Regions from separate parts of the Homo sapiens genome. Here regions 1 and 3 are each linked to region 2. Evidence: fine-mapped QTL for protein levels in blood plasma. A gene starts in region 2. Each other region holds a variant in brackets. All regions are shown on one strand. Distances are from middle to middle.

Region 1 (5,221 bases), 210 kb after region 2:
CAAATAGAAATGCAACAAGCAATTGGGAAAATCCCTGAAACTCTTATAAGCCTCTTTCTCCCACCTAAATCACTCATTTCAATTGGACTTTAGCCCTCATGACCTTGGAAAAGAGGCAAAACCAAAATCTATGGGGAAACAAATTTTTGGTTTTTGAGGTTCCTCCAAAAGGTTAGGTACTGGTTATTTTAGGAATTTTTCTGGAGTCATTCTGATTAAGCAGAGATTTTTCACCCTGAAGAGTTGACTTGGCTGGGTGCGGTGGCTCACGCTTGTAATCCCAGCACTTTGGGAGGCCGAGGCGGGCAGATCACGAGGTCAGGAGTTTGAGACCAGCCTGGCCAACACAGTGAAACCCCGTCTCTGTTAAAAATACAAAAATTAGCCAGGTGTGATGGCGGGCACCTGTAATCCCAGCTACTCGGGAGGCTGAGGCAGGAGAATCGCTTGAACCTGGGAGGCAGAGGTTACAGTAAGCTGAGATCGCACCACTGCACTCCAGCCTGGGCAACAGAGCTAGACTCCGTCTCAAAACAAACAAACAAAAAAGAGTTGACTTGAGGACCCATCCCTCAAGGAGA[T/G]GTAATTCCACTGTAAACAAAATTACTATGTCAATGGTAGGGGGGGAGAGAAATTGAGTAAGGTCATTTCACATGATTTTTTTGTCAGCTATTGGAACATCTATTAGACAAAAAAAGGACTCTTAGCCACAAATAAATAATAAAATATCCTAGTTTCTTTTTGTGTGTGTGTGACAAAGTCTCACTCTGTTGTCCAAGCTGGAGTGCAGTGGTGCAATCTCGGCTCACTGCAACCTCTATCTCCTGGGTTCAAGCGATTCTCCTGCCTCAGCCTCCCGAGTAGCTGGGACTACAGGCATGCGGCATTGTGCCCAGCTAATTTTTGTATTTTTAGTAGAGATGGGGTTTCACTATGTTGGCCAGGCTGGTCTTGAACTCCTGACCTTGTGATCCGCCTACCTTGGCCTCCCAAAGTGCTGGGATTACAGGCGTGAGCCACCGCACCTAGCCAAAATATCCTAGTTTTAATTTAGCATCAATAGTAATAGATTTTTATAACTTCTTATAGATGTTGAAATTCTATAGACTTTGTATAGTGTATCAACAATTCTCCTGAATTCCCAAAAAGATCTTTTATGGGCCAAAGGGACATTACATTACAATGGTATTTTAATACTGATACGTACCTATATCACTTAGTAAAGAAAGTATCTGGCTTTCTTTAAGTCCACAACAATTTTCTGGTTTGTTGAGCAGCTAAAAAAAGAAAGAAATCTAAAAATCTGTTCTGCAAATTGCTGGGCTGCAATAGTGACCACACATTAATTACTATACTCTAAAAGAATATTCAAATGAGAAAATAAGTCATAATAAAATACAAGGGAATAAAATTACCAAATCCATACTGAGGGCATGTAAATTTCATGATAAGGCTCATAAAAGTAAAAAGAGGCAAAAAGCATTTGAAACTGGAAAAGGCTGACAAATCTCATGGATATATATAAAAATGGTCATATGGGCACATTTAAAATTAGGTAGAAAAAAAAGATTGCAATACAGAAAACAACTTTTTATAAGCACCTTAACCACTGAAATTTTCATCTAACACCATTGCTATAGTCCCATCAAACAGCAACAACAAAAATGCATTTTCTAAATCAGGAGTCAACATTTTCTGTAAGGAACCATATGGTAAATACTTTAGGTTTTGCAAGTCACATAGTCTCTGTTAAAACTACTCACTTCTGCAGCCATAAGAAAGCAGCCATAGACAATGTGTAAAGAAATGAATGTGGCTGTGTTCCAATAAAACTTTATTTACAAAACAGGAAGCAGACCATAGTTTTTCCGATTCTTATTCTAGTTTATTATATTTAACATGATTCAAACATTGCTAAAGTTTGTGATTTACTCTCTCTCATCTCAAAACATCCACACTACCTTTCGGAGATCTCCTCCAGAACAGTATTCCATTGCTAGAAGAGGCACATCATGAATCAAAATATTCAATTCTTCAGGAACATCACAGGCCTTTACAACATTGGCATGGTTCAACCTAATAAGAAAGAAAAACATTACAATAAAAAAAATTATTTCCAATAAAAAGGGACTGGATTTGAAATGCTACTTAATTGTGGGTGGATGAACAGAGGGGGAAAGATCAGTATTATTTATAATATTCTAATTTCTGATTTGTATAATTAAAAATTAGTAATTTTTTAAAAGAAAACACACATAAAAATACCATCACTATTACTACTATTACATTTCTAAGTGCCAAGCAGTAAACATTTTAAATATATTAACTCAGTTACTTGTCACAATAATCCTATTATAGGTAGATTTATTAATACTTTCACCACACAGGAGAAAATTGAAGCACAAATTGGCTAAGTAACAAGATCACACAGTGAGTAAGTCAAATCTGGCGTTCTAGGCTGGGTGTAGTTGTAACTGTAATCCCAACAATTTGGGAGGCTGAGGTGGGAGGATTGCTTGAGGCCAGGAGTTCGAGATCAGCATGGGTAACACAGTGAGACCTCATCTCTACAAAAAATTAAAAATTAGCCGGGTGTGGTGGCGCATGCCTATAGTCCCAGCTACTCCAGAGGCTGAGGTGGGAGGACTGCTTGAGCCCAGGAGTTCAAGTCAAGCCTGGGTAACATAGCAAGACCACATCTCTTTTAAAAAAAAAAAGAAAAAAAGAAAAAGAAGCAAACAGAATTTCCATGTACATGTAGGACCTGATAATTTATACTATTAAGCTTTCCTGGTGATTCTGCCACATAACCAAGTTTGAGAATCAAAATGGAATTAAGCACAGATATTAGAGTCAGAAAGTATTTATTTCAAATCCACACTTTACCAACCACCAGCTATGTGATTCTATAAGCTTCAACTTCCTCATTTGCAAAATAATACCTAAATATAAGATTGCTGTGATAACTGGAAGAATGATCTGTAAAGTACTTAGCACACTACCTGTGGAAGTTTTAAAATATGTCTACTTCTCTTTTTAAGAGCTTAACTCTCCTCCCCTTGAATGTAGGCTGTACTTAGTGACTCACTGTAACAAACAGAATGTGGTGGAAAAGGATGGAGTCTCACTTCCAAGTAAAGATCATAAAAGATACGTCGGTTTTCATCTTGCTCGCTCGTTCACTCTCTCTCTCTCTCTCTCTCTCTCAGATCACTCACTCTTTCTGAGGAAAAGATCTTTCTGGGGAAAGCTAGCTTCCATGTCATGAAAACATTCAAGCTTCCCCATGAAGAGGCCCACATGGCGAAGAACTGATGCTTTTGGCCAACATTCATATAAGTGAGCATGGAAGCAGATACTCCAGCCCCAGTCAAGCCTTTGGATTACTGCAGCTCCGACCAATATCCTGAGATGTCTCAGGAAAGACTCTAAGCTAGAATCACCCAGCTAAGCCACTCCCAAATTCCTAAGTCACAGAAACTATAAGATACTAAATGTTTGCTATTTTAAGCCACTAAATGTTGGGGTAATTTATTTTTTATTATTTATTTATTTATTTAGAGACGGAGTCGCCCAGGCTGGAGTGCAGTGGTATGATCTCAGCTTACCGCAACCTCCGCCTCCCGGGTTCAAGCAATTCTCCTCCCTCGGCCTCCCAAGTAGCTGGGATTACAGGCACCCGCCACCACACCTGGCTAATTTTTGTATTTTTAGTAGAGATGGGGTTTTGCCATGTTGACCGGGCTGGTCTCAAACTCCTGACCTCAGGTAATCCATCCGCCTTGGCCTCCCAAAGTGCTGGGATTATAGGTGTGAGCCACCACGCCCGGCCCTAGCTGACTTTTGTTAACTGAAATGAAATAGTTTTTTGATTGTGGTAAAACACACATAGCATAAAATTTACCACCTTAACCATTTTTAAGTGTACAGTTTAGTGGCATCAAGATGCTTTCCTTTTTTTTCAGACAGGGTCTTGCTCTTGTCACCCAGGCTGGAGTACAGTGGTATGATCTCAGCTCACTGTAGCCTTGACCTCCTGGGCTCAAGCAATCTTCCCACCTCAGCCTCCCAAGTAACTGGGACTACGGGCATGCACCACCACACATAGCTAGTTTTTATATTTTTTGTAGAGATGGGGTTTTGCCATGTTGCCCAGGCTGGTCTCGAACTCCTGAGCTCAAGCAATCCACCCACCTCAGCCTCTCAAAGTGTTGGAATTACAGTGTGAGCCAACATGCCCAGCCTGGCATCAAATACTTTCACAATGTTTTGCTACTATCACTATACTGCACAAAACTGTTTAATTCTGCAAAGCTGAAACTCCGCACCTATTAAAAATTATTCTCTATTTGCTGGTCCCTTCACCCTCTGGCAAACACCATTCTACTTTCTTTCACTGTGAGTTTGACTACTCTAGGTACCACACATAAGTGGAATGACACAGTATTTGTCTTTTTGTGACTGGCTTATTTCATTTAGCATAATGTCCACAAGATTCATCCATGCTGTGGCATGTGTCAGAGTTTCATTCCTTTTTAAGGCTGCATGATATTCCGTTTCATGAATATACCACATTTTGTTTATACATGTCTCTGCTGGTAGATACTGGGTTGCTTTTACCTTTCAGCTATTGTGAATAATAATGTTATGAATATGAGTGTACAAATTACTCTTTAAGTCCCTGCTTTCAATTCATTTTTGTATATACCCAGAAATGGAATTGCTGGATCATATGGTAATTCTATTTTTAATTTTTTAGGAATCACCGTACTGTTTTCCGTAACAGTTGCACAATTTTACATTCCCACCAACAGTGTGTAAGTGTCCTAGCTGATTTTAACTAAACCTTCTTAATCTTAATGTGATATTATTATTTGAAATAGAATATATTTAATGAGAGAAAAAAATATATGTTCCCAAAAAGATCCTGAGAAGAGTGGATTCCTGGCCTCTTTCCCCATGATGACATCTGGTTGGGCTGTAGAACCAGGGAAATGTAAGTCAAGGAATACACTTACTTCTTCATAATCTGGATTTCATGGCACCATCGTTCTCTGTTTTTGGTACTTAGCTCTAGGCGACAAGACTTAATTGCTATTTTGAGATCAAGTTCCTGCCAAAATAGAAAATCAACAGAAAAAAAAAATTAGGTTCTTGTGAAGATTTATTTGCTACCAAAGAAATAACTTAAGACAACAAAACTTTTTAGCTTTACTAATTA
Region 2 (5,230 bases):
CAGAAGAAAAGATCTAGAAATCTAAAAATGAAATAATACATTTTAGCTACTCTATTTCACCTCCCACAGCTGCCTTTCATAGCAGGGAGGATAAAGAACACAACTAAAAGTTAACATCTTGGTTTAACGGCTCTTTCATTAAAGAGCTCATTTTACTGCTGCTACTTAAGAACTTTCTGCCTTTCCAGGCAAGAAACTAATAACTCATAATTAACTCCTGACCAACAAGACTAAGTTAACCAATCTTGAAAATTAGCTTATTCAGATGTTTTCCAGAGTGTGTATAATAAGAAACTATTTCATATTAATTGAATTGGTGTTGCAAAACTTTCCAGAAGTATTCTGAATGAATTCTAAGGATGCTTTGGCAGATGATCAAGCACATTCGAGAATTTCACAGGAGATAATCTCGTAATAATACCATGTTGTAGGTAATCCATTAGCTGACTCTAGAAACAACAGAATACTAAACCTAGAAAATAAGCCAAAAGCCAGGCTCGGTGGCTCACGCCTGTAATCCCAGCATTTTGGGAGGCTGAGGCAGGCGGATCACCTGAAGTCAGGAGCCAGAAAAGAGGAAGAGATTGATGGAACGTTGAGGGAAATGCCCTGCCTTGGGGCTGCAAGACAAATAAATAACTGGTGCATATTTAAACAGATCGTTTATGAAGATTATTATTATCTCAGCCAAAAAATACACAATATGAACACTGTATAAAAGTCAATTTATCACATTCTCTGAGTCAGACTGTTCTTGGCTTATTGCAAAAGTTATCAGTGCACTGCACGAACCCCGTTCCCAAGCCAGACTTGAGCTACTCTCCACCCTCCAGAAATCACTCCATTGCAGCCTCTGAATTTAAGTGAATTTAACACGTAAGTATCTGCAATTTGAAAAGTCACTTTTCACTTATTTTAGCCCAACCCTGATAAAGTGACTGAGAGAGCTGAGAATAATGAATTTGAAGATTCGCTATGCCCCATTATGCAGAATTCTAAAAATCTTTTCTTCTTAAAACATTTTTATTATCACAATGAGTGACGTGTTTCAAGTTAACATGTAAAATCGGAGAACTCGAGACAGAAGAGGACCTTAGAGATCCTTTAATTCAATATTTTAGAGAAAAATGGGTAGAGGATAAACTAACTTGCTGATCACCGTGTCGGTATTCATGCTGTGAAAGTAATAAACGGAACACCAACTGAGAAATGATCCCCGAATGCTGTCAGGTACTTCAGTCTTGCAAAAACTACTACAGATTAATCAGTCCTGCTCATCCGTTTAACTCAGCTATGTAAACAAGCAGAGCTAGACTATGCTCAAACCCTAAATATTAGCGTTACCACTCGCCTGCCACATACTACAGCATCATTAGTTATGAAAGTGTTTTAATACAAGATCTTCATGTTTGTGTAAAAGAATTACTATAAAACAGACCTAAAGGCAAGTTACCCATATTCCAGAATAAGTGAGTGCCAAAAATATTCACCCTTCATTACAGTACAAATGAGACAGGCAGTAATAATGAGACTGCATTTAAAGTTGTTTTTGCACTTAAAATTTAAGTCTATACTCCTCATCTGCATCAGGCCCCGGCCTGTTTGGTAACCTCAATATTCCTTTACTAAAGTGACAGCATCACCACCCTTTGAGACACAGATGCCCGGTGGACATCTGTGCCTGCAGCAGGAACGCGGGTGTCCGCGGGTTTCTGCAAAACTCCACCATGACCAAAGCTGCATCTCCAGCTGAACAGGTCTAACCCTTGCTTCGGAAGCCATCTGTCCCTGTCTCCCTGACACAGAATCACGGCCTCCTATGCCGTAAGGCTCCGAACATCTGTAAAATCAGCGGGGTGGACTAACGCAGAATTCTTTTTCCAGCTCTCAAAATTCCGCCTCATTGCCGGAGTGGCAGGGCGGTGCAGAGAAAGAGCCCTGGGCTTGACACCGCTTGAAAAGCCCACGTTCGCATTGCTCTGACCACCCCTCCAACTCCCGGGGACTACAGGAGTGCGAGGGGGCCCGCTGCGCCCCACTGTCCCTCGCGGGCTCCTGGCCCACAGAGCGCAGCACAGCGCCGCCGCTGGGAAAGGGCCGATACAGGCCTAGCCGCGCGGCGCGGCGCGGCGCGTCTCTCGGGGTGCGGGTCCCCTCCGCCCGCGGCCCCGGACCGCGACCCCCGCTCCCCGCCCGGCCCCCGCCCGGCTCCGGCCTGGCCCGGCCTCTGACCTGCTTTCCGCCGCCCGGCGGTCCCTCGGCGCGGCAGGCAGTTGCAGCCGCCAGTCCCCAGCCCGCTGTCACCTCCGCCCCTGGAAGCGGCGGGCGGGTCGATCCCGTGTGAGTCAGCGCGCCGCCCCGCCTCCCGCTCAGGCTTCCGCCTCTGCCGGCGCGGTCCGCGCGGCCCCGGGGGCGCCAAGCTCCGCTGCCCGCGCGCCCACCTCTCCGGCGCCCGCCCCGCGCTCGCGCCCCCTGGCGGCCGGCCCGGCCCTGCTCGCCTCGCGACGTCAGAGGGGCGTCGCTCCCAGAACGGCCACCGGGGAAACTGAGGCACGGGGGCCCGCCCCCGCCGCAGCGCGCCGACACGGCTCGTCGGGCCTCGGCCTCACGCAGTCCTACGTGCAGCCCCGGCTGCGGACAAGTTCCTCCACTCTTGCTGTTCCCCCACTCCCGACACCACCCTCCAACCTAGAAAAAAGTCAAAATTCCATTCAGAGAAGTCCAAGTCGATTCCTGTCTGCGTGTGATGCTGTCCTCTTTGCTACCCCGAGGCAGTTTCCCTTATTATGCCACACAATACTCGCTGGGGTTCGCCTCTATCTGTCCCATTTTTTTCTGAGGAAAGTCTCTCAGGACATCTTTGAGAATTTGAGAGCAAGAAATGACAGAAGCAAGAACTGGGCAGGGCTGTCAGAACTCCTCCTCCGACTCAGTTTCTGAATCCCCGCAGTATTCCCGTTGTTTGTTTAAAGACCACGAAGTTACACAGCTTGGCTATGTTGCTGGAATTGCTGCGCCTCACGTTTCTGGAATCTACCTAGAGGATTCTGAAGAAGGCGGCGAGTCTATGACTGTGCATGCACAACAAAAATAAATATTTCACAAATCTCATCCCATGCTGTATATGTTTCTCCTTCCCTTTGCTTTTTAAAAACTTGTGGTTAAATATATATCACATGAAATTTACCATTTTAATCCTTTTTAAGTGTACAGTTCAGTGGCATTAAGTACATTGACATTGTTCTGCAACCATCACCACCATCCAGCTCCAGAACTTTTTCATCTTCCCAAACTGAAACTGTACCCATTAAACACTAACTCCTCATTCTCCAGCCCCTGGTAACCATCATTCTACTTTCTGTCTCTATGATTACTCTGGATACCTCATATAAGTGGGATCATACAATATTGTCCTTTTGTGAGTGGCTTCTTTCACCTAGCATAATGTCTTCAAGGCTCACCCATGTTGTAGCATGCGTTAGAATATCCTTCCTTTTGAAGGCTGAATAATACTCAATTGTACGTATATAACATCTTTGGTTTATCCCATCTTTCTGTGGACATTTGGGTTGTTTGTACCTTTAGGCTATGGTGAATAATGCTGCAATGAACATGGGTGTACAAATATCTGAGTCCCTACTTTCAATTCTTTTGGGTATATATCCAGAAGAATTGCTGGATCATGTGGTAATTCTGTGTTTAATTTTTTGAGAAGCCACCATACTGTTTTTTTTTCCTTTGCTTTTTGAAGCATGTTAACACTGTAAAGAGAACATTTTGTAGTAAAATATCAACGTTCGGAGAGTCTTTAAAATTCTTAGCAATGCTTCATTTGCCTGTAAAACTGTGACTTTTCGGCGGATCACGAGGTCAAGAGAACGAGACCATCCTGGTCAACATGGTGAAACCCTGTCTCTACTAAAAATAAAAAATTAGCTGGTCATGGTGGTGGGTGCCTGTAGTCCCAGCTACTCGGGAGGCTGAGGCAGGAGAATCGCTTGAACCCGGGAGGTAGAGGTTGCAGTGAGCTGAGATCGCGCCACTGCACTCCAGCGTGGTGACACAGCGAGACTCCGTCTCAAATAAATAAATAAATAAATAAATAAATAAATATTTTAAAACAAGTGACTTTTCTTTCCTCAAGAAAGTAATTAACATTGCAAATCTATTGTCTTTATTTTTGGATAATGTTATTAGCCAAAATAAAAATAACTTATTATTCAGTTTCCTACAATTTTGTTTTCTGTGGATGTAGCTTTCTAAAGTTGTTTGGAGTCAAGTATGCCATATGAAATTCAGATGAAAAATCAAGCATTTCGTTTTATTTATTTTTTTCGCCACGTTGGTCAGGCTGGGCTTGAACTCCTGACCTCAGGTGATCCACCCTCCTCGGCCTCCCAAAGTACTGGGATTACAGGCATGAACCACTGCGCCCAGCCTGGGGATCGGAGTTTTTTGTTTGTTTGTTTTTTTGAGACGGAGTCTCGCTCCGTCTCCCAGGCTTGAGTGCAGCGGCGTGATCTCGGCTCATTGCAAGCTCCGCCTTCTGGGTTCCCGCCATTCTCCTGCCTCAGCCTCCCGAGTAGCTGGTACTGCAGGCGCCCGCCACCACGCCTGGCTAATTTTTTTTTTGTATTTTTGTAGTAGAAACGGACTATCACCGTGTTAGCCAGGATTGTCTCCATCTCCTGACCTTGTGGAGTTTTTAAAGATAATTTGGCTGGTGGGGTCTTGAGAAGTGGGGAGTGCTGATTGGTCAGGTTGGAGATGGAAACATAGGGGGTCAAAATGAGGTTTTCTTGCTGTTTTCTGCTCCTGGGTGCAATGCAGAACTGGTTGAGCCAGATTACCGGTCTGGATGGTGTCAGCAGATCCATCAACTGCAGGGTCTGCAAAATATCTCAAATACTGATCTTAGGTTTTGAAATAGTGATGTTATTCCAGGAGCAATTTGGGAGGTTCAGGCTCTTGGAGTCAGAGGCTGCATGACCCCTAAACTGTAATTTTTTTTTTTTTTTTTTTTTTTGAGACGGAGTCTTAGTCTACCGCCCAGGCTGGAGTGCAGGGGTGCAATCTCAGCTCACTGCAACCTCCACCTCCCGAGTTGAAGCGATTCTCGTGCCTCAGCCTCCCTAGTAGCTGAAATTACAAGCATGCACCACCACGTCCAGCTAATTTTTGTATTTTTAGTAGAGATGAGGTTTCACATTGTTGGCCAGGCTGGTCTCAA
Region 3 (5,230 bases), 320 kb before region 2:
ACATGTTTTTCATTAGAGATTGCAAAATGGTGATATTTCTAATTCTGTCATTCCTTCTGCATTTAACAGCTAGAATTTTTATGTAATGAACTTTTCTTGATCAACTCTTTGGTTACCCTGACATATAGTTCTTATGGGAAAGACAGAATAAATCCTTGATTCTTTTTATTTATCACATTTCTGAATAATGAGTTGGTGTCTAGCAACTTCCAAAGGTAACCAGTGAAAAAAAAGTTTTAATTATTATTATGAACTCATGGATTTTAATATATTAGATGCATTAGAGCCCATCACATTATTAGTATTTTAAGGAGCATCTTTAGGTTGGCTGCTGTATCCTTTTAATATGACCCCAATACTCTTTTATATTCCCCTTGCTATCTGGTACAGCAATGTATTCCAGGGTCATCTTGTATACTTTCTACCCTAGACCTGGCATTGGCCTGTTTTTAAAAGAGCCCTGGTTTCTTTTAGTAAAAGATGGTATTTAGAGATTATTGGTCCAGATACCACAGGTGGTCATTACTCCTGGGATATCATTGCTTCTAGGCCTTTCAGTGAACACAGCTAGGAAATATGTATTTTTTAGAAAGAGAAAAATAAATGAGTTCATAGTCATATTTCTGACTCATATGTAAGATTATAGGGTGCTATTAATTTATTTGATTTTTATACCTATATCCTTTTTGTTCTGTTATGCTGAATCTTTGTTCCTAAAGATATTGACATAAACATTTATTTGTTTTATTCCACAATATGTTTCATAATTTTTTTTTTTTTTTTGAGACAGTCTTGCTCTGTCACCCAGGCTGGAGTGCAGTGGTGCAATCTCGGCTCACTACAACCTCCGCCTGTCGGGTTCAAGCGATTCTCCTGCCTCAGCCCCCTGAGTAGTTGGGATTACAGGTGTGCAGCACCATGCCCGGCTAATTTTTGTGTTTTAGTAGAGACAGGGTTTCACCATGTTGGTCAGGCTGGTCTCGAACTCCTGACCTTGTGATCTGCCTGCCTCAGTCTCCCTTCATAATTTTTAAATAATAAAACCAACAATATTGTTAACAAGACTACTGCGATGTAGCTTAAGATATTTGTTTCTTTTGTCCTTAGGCTATATCCTACTAGGGATACGTAGTCAAAATGTCATGTTTAAGTAATTCACAAGAATTATTCTTTGTGTAATATATAGTTGATTCAGTTAGTATACTTGTTTGCTTTCTTTTTTTTATTTTGAGACAGGTTCTCTGTCACTGAGGCTAGAGTTTAGTGGTGCGATAATAGCTCACTGCAGCCTCAAACTCTTGGGCACAAATGATCCTCTGGCCTCAGCCTCCTGAGTAGCTGGGACTACAGGTGTGCACCACCATGCCCAGCTAATTAAAAAAAATTTTTTTTTTTTATGAGAGTGTCTCACTATGTTGCCTAGGCTGGTCTTGAACTCCTCGGCTCACATAATCCTCCCACCTTGGCCTCCCAGTGTTTTGGGATTACAGGTGTGAGCCATGGCACCTGCCTGCTTTCAAATTTTCAAGGGATTGCTGTTTTGGGGGTTTGACTTAATTTTATTTTTTAATTACTAGGGCCTTTTTGTTCTCTTATTTATTTCAGAATCAGATGCTGAGGCTACCCAGGAATTGGCAGCAGGACGGAGAAGGACAGTAGGGATACTGGATATGGGAGGAGCCTCTCTCCAAATTGCTTATGAAGTTCCTACCTCAACCTCTGTCCTTCCTGCAAAGCAGGTACTTTACCTTTTAGGGAAATTTAGTTGCTAGGAATGCTAGTATTTGAGAAGGAAGGACACTGTCTTTGGACTTAGACCAACCTACCTGGCTCTAAATATTTGTTCAGATACTTGCTAGCTTGCGTTATCTTGAGTAGGTTACCTCTCTGAGCCTCAGCTTCCTCCTGTGTGAAAAAGGAATAATAATAGTATCTACCTCATAAAGTTATGAGGATGAAATAATACCATGTTTGTAAAGCATTTAGCAAACTGTCCAGCATAAGTGTTCAATACATTTTAACAATTATAACTATACTAGGTATCTCCTGCCATTGCTGAGGATAAACATGATAATGCATTTACATTCTGGAGCACAGTATTTGATACATATCTATTGTTCAATAAATGTTATTCCCTTTCCCCTTACTGATGATTCCATTCTGGGCCTTCTAATAATCCTTACCCCACTAGAATGTAAAGAATGTATTTTGAGGGAGAAGTTTCATCCTACACAGACACTTTTTGTACAGCCATTATGTACACCTATTATGTACACCCATTATGTGCAAGGAATAGACAATATTATGTACAAGGAATAGACATGTGAGTTACACTGTCCCTAAAAACTTATAATTTATCTGTCAGTGGAGACAGCTTGTGATATCAGGGAGACTGTAGCAGTGCTTAACTTGATCTAAACCAGGGCTTCTCATCGTTGGCACTCTTGACATTTTGGGTCAGATAATTCTTTGTCATCAGGGGTTATCCCATGCATCATATGATATCTCTTGCCTATACCAGATGTCAGTAACAACCCTCCCCCTTCCAGTTGTGACAATCAAAAGTGTCTCCAGACATTACCAGATGTGTGGGGCAGGGTGGAAATTGCCCATCATTGAGAACATCTGGTTTAAACAGAGAGCTGTGGCAATATGGGGACTGGCAGCCAACTTAGCTTGCAAAGTTGAATGGGAGCCATTCTTGCTTCATGGAAGGTAAAGTATTTACCTGGGCCTTGGATGAGAGTAGGCTTTTTTTTTTTTGCAGAGTGGAGGCTGAGGGAAGGCCACCTGCATGGAGGGAACACTATATACAAAGGCACAGAAAAAGCAGCACAGAGGCCAGAATGTCCAGGGAATGACGAATAGCCTTTTGCAGTATAGGATTTTCAGGTGTGCTAGTAGTTAAGACTGGGAAGATAAGATGGAGCTAAATCATGAGCAGTATTGAGTGCTATCATAAGGGGACTGGCTTTTATTTCCATAGATAGTGGAAAACCACCAAAAGTTTTTGAGTAAGGCAGTCACATGGGCCTCAGTTTCATTTATAAAATAATTAAACTGTGAAGGTCCTTCTCAGCTCTGAATTTTGTGATGATGTCAGTTGTGTGACTGTGATCTGATCTTTTTGTAGTGAAAAAATTTTTGTGTCAGTAGGAGAAAGAATATAGGTCA[C/T]GGAACCTTGAGTGAGAAGTAATAAAGGGCTGAGTTAGACAAAGTAAGTGGAAATGAAAGGGAGGGGACAGATTTCAGGGGATAGTTTGGAGTGAAAACCCAATGTAATTGAGCGATTGATTGTGGTAGTGTGAGTAGGGTGGGAGGATGGCCAGCAGTGCTGAGGATCTATCCTAGATAACCAGAAGACTGAGGAACCCAGTAACTGAGAGAAGAGCAACAGGGGTAAGGGCAGGGGTGATATTAAGCAAACAGTATTGTCCTGAGAGATCTGGATGAGAGCGTCTATCTGGTCTTCTAGTTCAGAAGTTGTAAAACTAATGACTTCAATTTTGGATATATTGAGTTTAAGATACCCAAGGAACATATATGTCAGAATATCCACAGGACTGTTGGAAATGTGAGTTTAGCAGTCAGCAGAGAATTTCATGCTGGGGTTGGAAATGTGGGGGACTAACTAGGTTGTGATACTTTTTAGTCTATATTCGTTAGTATGTATTTAACAGGTAAAACGAAGGCATGGATCTGATACTAAGAAATAGGTGACAAGCGGGACTGGGGCTTCAAGTCTTAAAGAAATGACTTTTGTGTGTGTGCAGATTTAGAAAGGAACATGGTTATGGAAAGCAACACTGGTACGGAATGCATACTTGCAAGCAACAAATTAGATTTACATATAGCAGGCCGGGCACGGTGGCTGACGCCTGTAATCCCAGCACTTTGGGAAGCCAAGGCGGGTGGATCACCTGAGGTCAGGAGTTTAGGACCAGTCTGGCCAACATGGTGAAACCCCGTCTCTACTAAAAATACAAAAATTAGCTGGGCAGGGTGGGCAGGCACCTCTAACCCTGCTACTCAGGAGGCTGAGGCAGGAGAATCGCTTGAACCTGGGAGGCAGAAGTTGCAGTGAGCCAAGATCGCACCACTGCATTCCAGCCTGGGTGACAGAGTGAGACCCCATCTCAAAAAAAAAAAAAATAGTAACTACACATAGCAATATAATGGCTCTTCAAGATGAATCTTAGTGCTTGGTAAAAATGAAAGAAACTGTGAGACAATGGCATTTAAAACATTTTAAATAATCCTGAATGCCTAATATATTTTTTTGTACAACTCACAAAGTTATGTACATTCACAAAGTTGTGCAGCCACCACTATTGAATTCCAGAACATTTCATCGCCCCAAAAAGAAACCCCATATTCACTCCCCACTCATTTCCCATTAGCAGTCACTCCTCATTCTCTCCTCTCCCTACCCCTGACAACTATTCATCTACTTTCTCTCTCCAGTGGATTTGCCTATTCCGGACATTTTGTATAAATGAAATCATACAATATGTGGTGTTTTATGTCTGGCTTCTTTTATTTAGCAAAATGTTTTCAAGGTTCAGCCATCTCGTGGTATGGGTATTTCATTCCTTTTTAATGGCTAAACAGCATTCCATTGTATGACCAACCATGCTGTATTTTGTTTATCCATTTATCAGCTGATGAACATTTCAGTGGTTTTCCCTTTTTGGCTATTATGCACAGTGCTGCTGTGAACATTCATATACACATTTTTCTATGTACATAAGTTTTTTTGTTTTTTTTTTTTTTTGAGATGGGGTTTCACTCTTGTCACTCAGGCTGGAGTGCCATGGCACGATCTCGGCTCACTGCAACCTCTGCCTCCCAGGTTCAAGCGATTCTCCTGCCTCAGCCTCCTGAGTAGCTGGGATTACAGGCACCCACCACCATGCCTGGCTAATTTTTGTATTTTTAGTAGAGACGGAGTTTCACCATGTTGGCCAGGCTGGTCTCGAACTCCTGGCCTCAAGTGATCCACCCTCCTTGGCCTCCCAAAGTGCTGGGATTATAGGCATGAGCCACCATGCCCACCCCAGTTTTTGGATCTCTTGGTATGTACCTTGGAGTGAAATTGCAGGGCACAATGGTATTTTTCACAAATTAAAAAGAAATACATTCAAAACAAGAATCCTCATTTTATAATAATACATATATACAAAAATTATACATAACACATTAGAATGGTTGCCCATGGCAGAGAATGGAA

Which allele goes with the higher level. Alleles are on the strand shown, and positions count from the first base shown. The strength of an association depends on the size of the effect and on how common the allele is.
For the plasma level of the protein whose gene starts at base 2,342 in region 2, G is the low allele of the variant in region 1 and T is the other (moderate association).
With allele C in place of T in region 3, the plasma level of the protein whose gene starts at base 2,342 in region 2 is higher (moderate association).

Evidence for each region. PIP is the chance, under the fine-mapping model, that this variant and not a neighbour inherited with it causes the effect. Protein levels are from antibody-based Olink assays in UK Biobank. Linkage for the fine-mapping came from a reference panel and not from the study's own genotypes, which makes the PIPs less certain.
Region 1: its variant is fine-mapped to the plasma level of the DNMBP protein (UK Biobank, PIP above 0.99).
Region 3: its variant is fine-mapped to the plasma level of the DNMBP protein (UK Biobank, PIP above 0.99).

The regions. Positions count from the first base shown.
Region 1 is chr10:100,220,905-100,226,125 of GRCh38, forward strand. CHUK (component of inhibitor of nuclear factor kappa B kinase complex) reads right to left here. Exons shown (of 21, transcript NM_001278.5): 2 at 5,019-5,113; 3 at 1,962-2,076; 4 at 1,208-1,277. Among named protein-coding and RNA genes, the nearest start is that of CHUK, 6.1 kb to the right of the region's middle. The variant T/G (reference allele first, on the strand shown) is at 582.
Region 2 is chr10:100,007,606-100,012,835 of GRCh38, forward strand. DNMBP (dynamin binding protein) reads right to left here and starts at 2,342. Exons shown (of 17, transcript NM_015221.4): 1 at 2,233-2,342. RefSeq lists a silencer at 2,115-2,634.
Region 3 is chr10:99,689,780-99,695,009 of GRCh38, forward strand. ENTPD7 (ectonucleoside triphosphate diphosphohydrolase 7) reads left to right here. Exons shown (of 13, transcript NM_020354.5): 8 at 1,606-1,739. It also overlaps a transcript of COX15 not described here. Among named protein-coding and RNA genes, the nearest start is that of ENTPD7, 33 kb to the left of the region's middle. The variant C/T (reference allele first, on the strand shown) is at 3,175.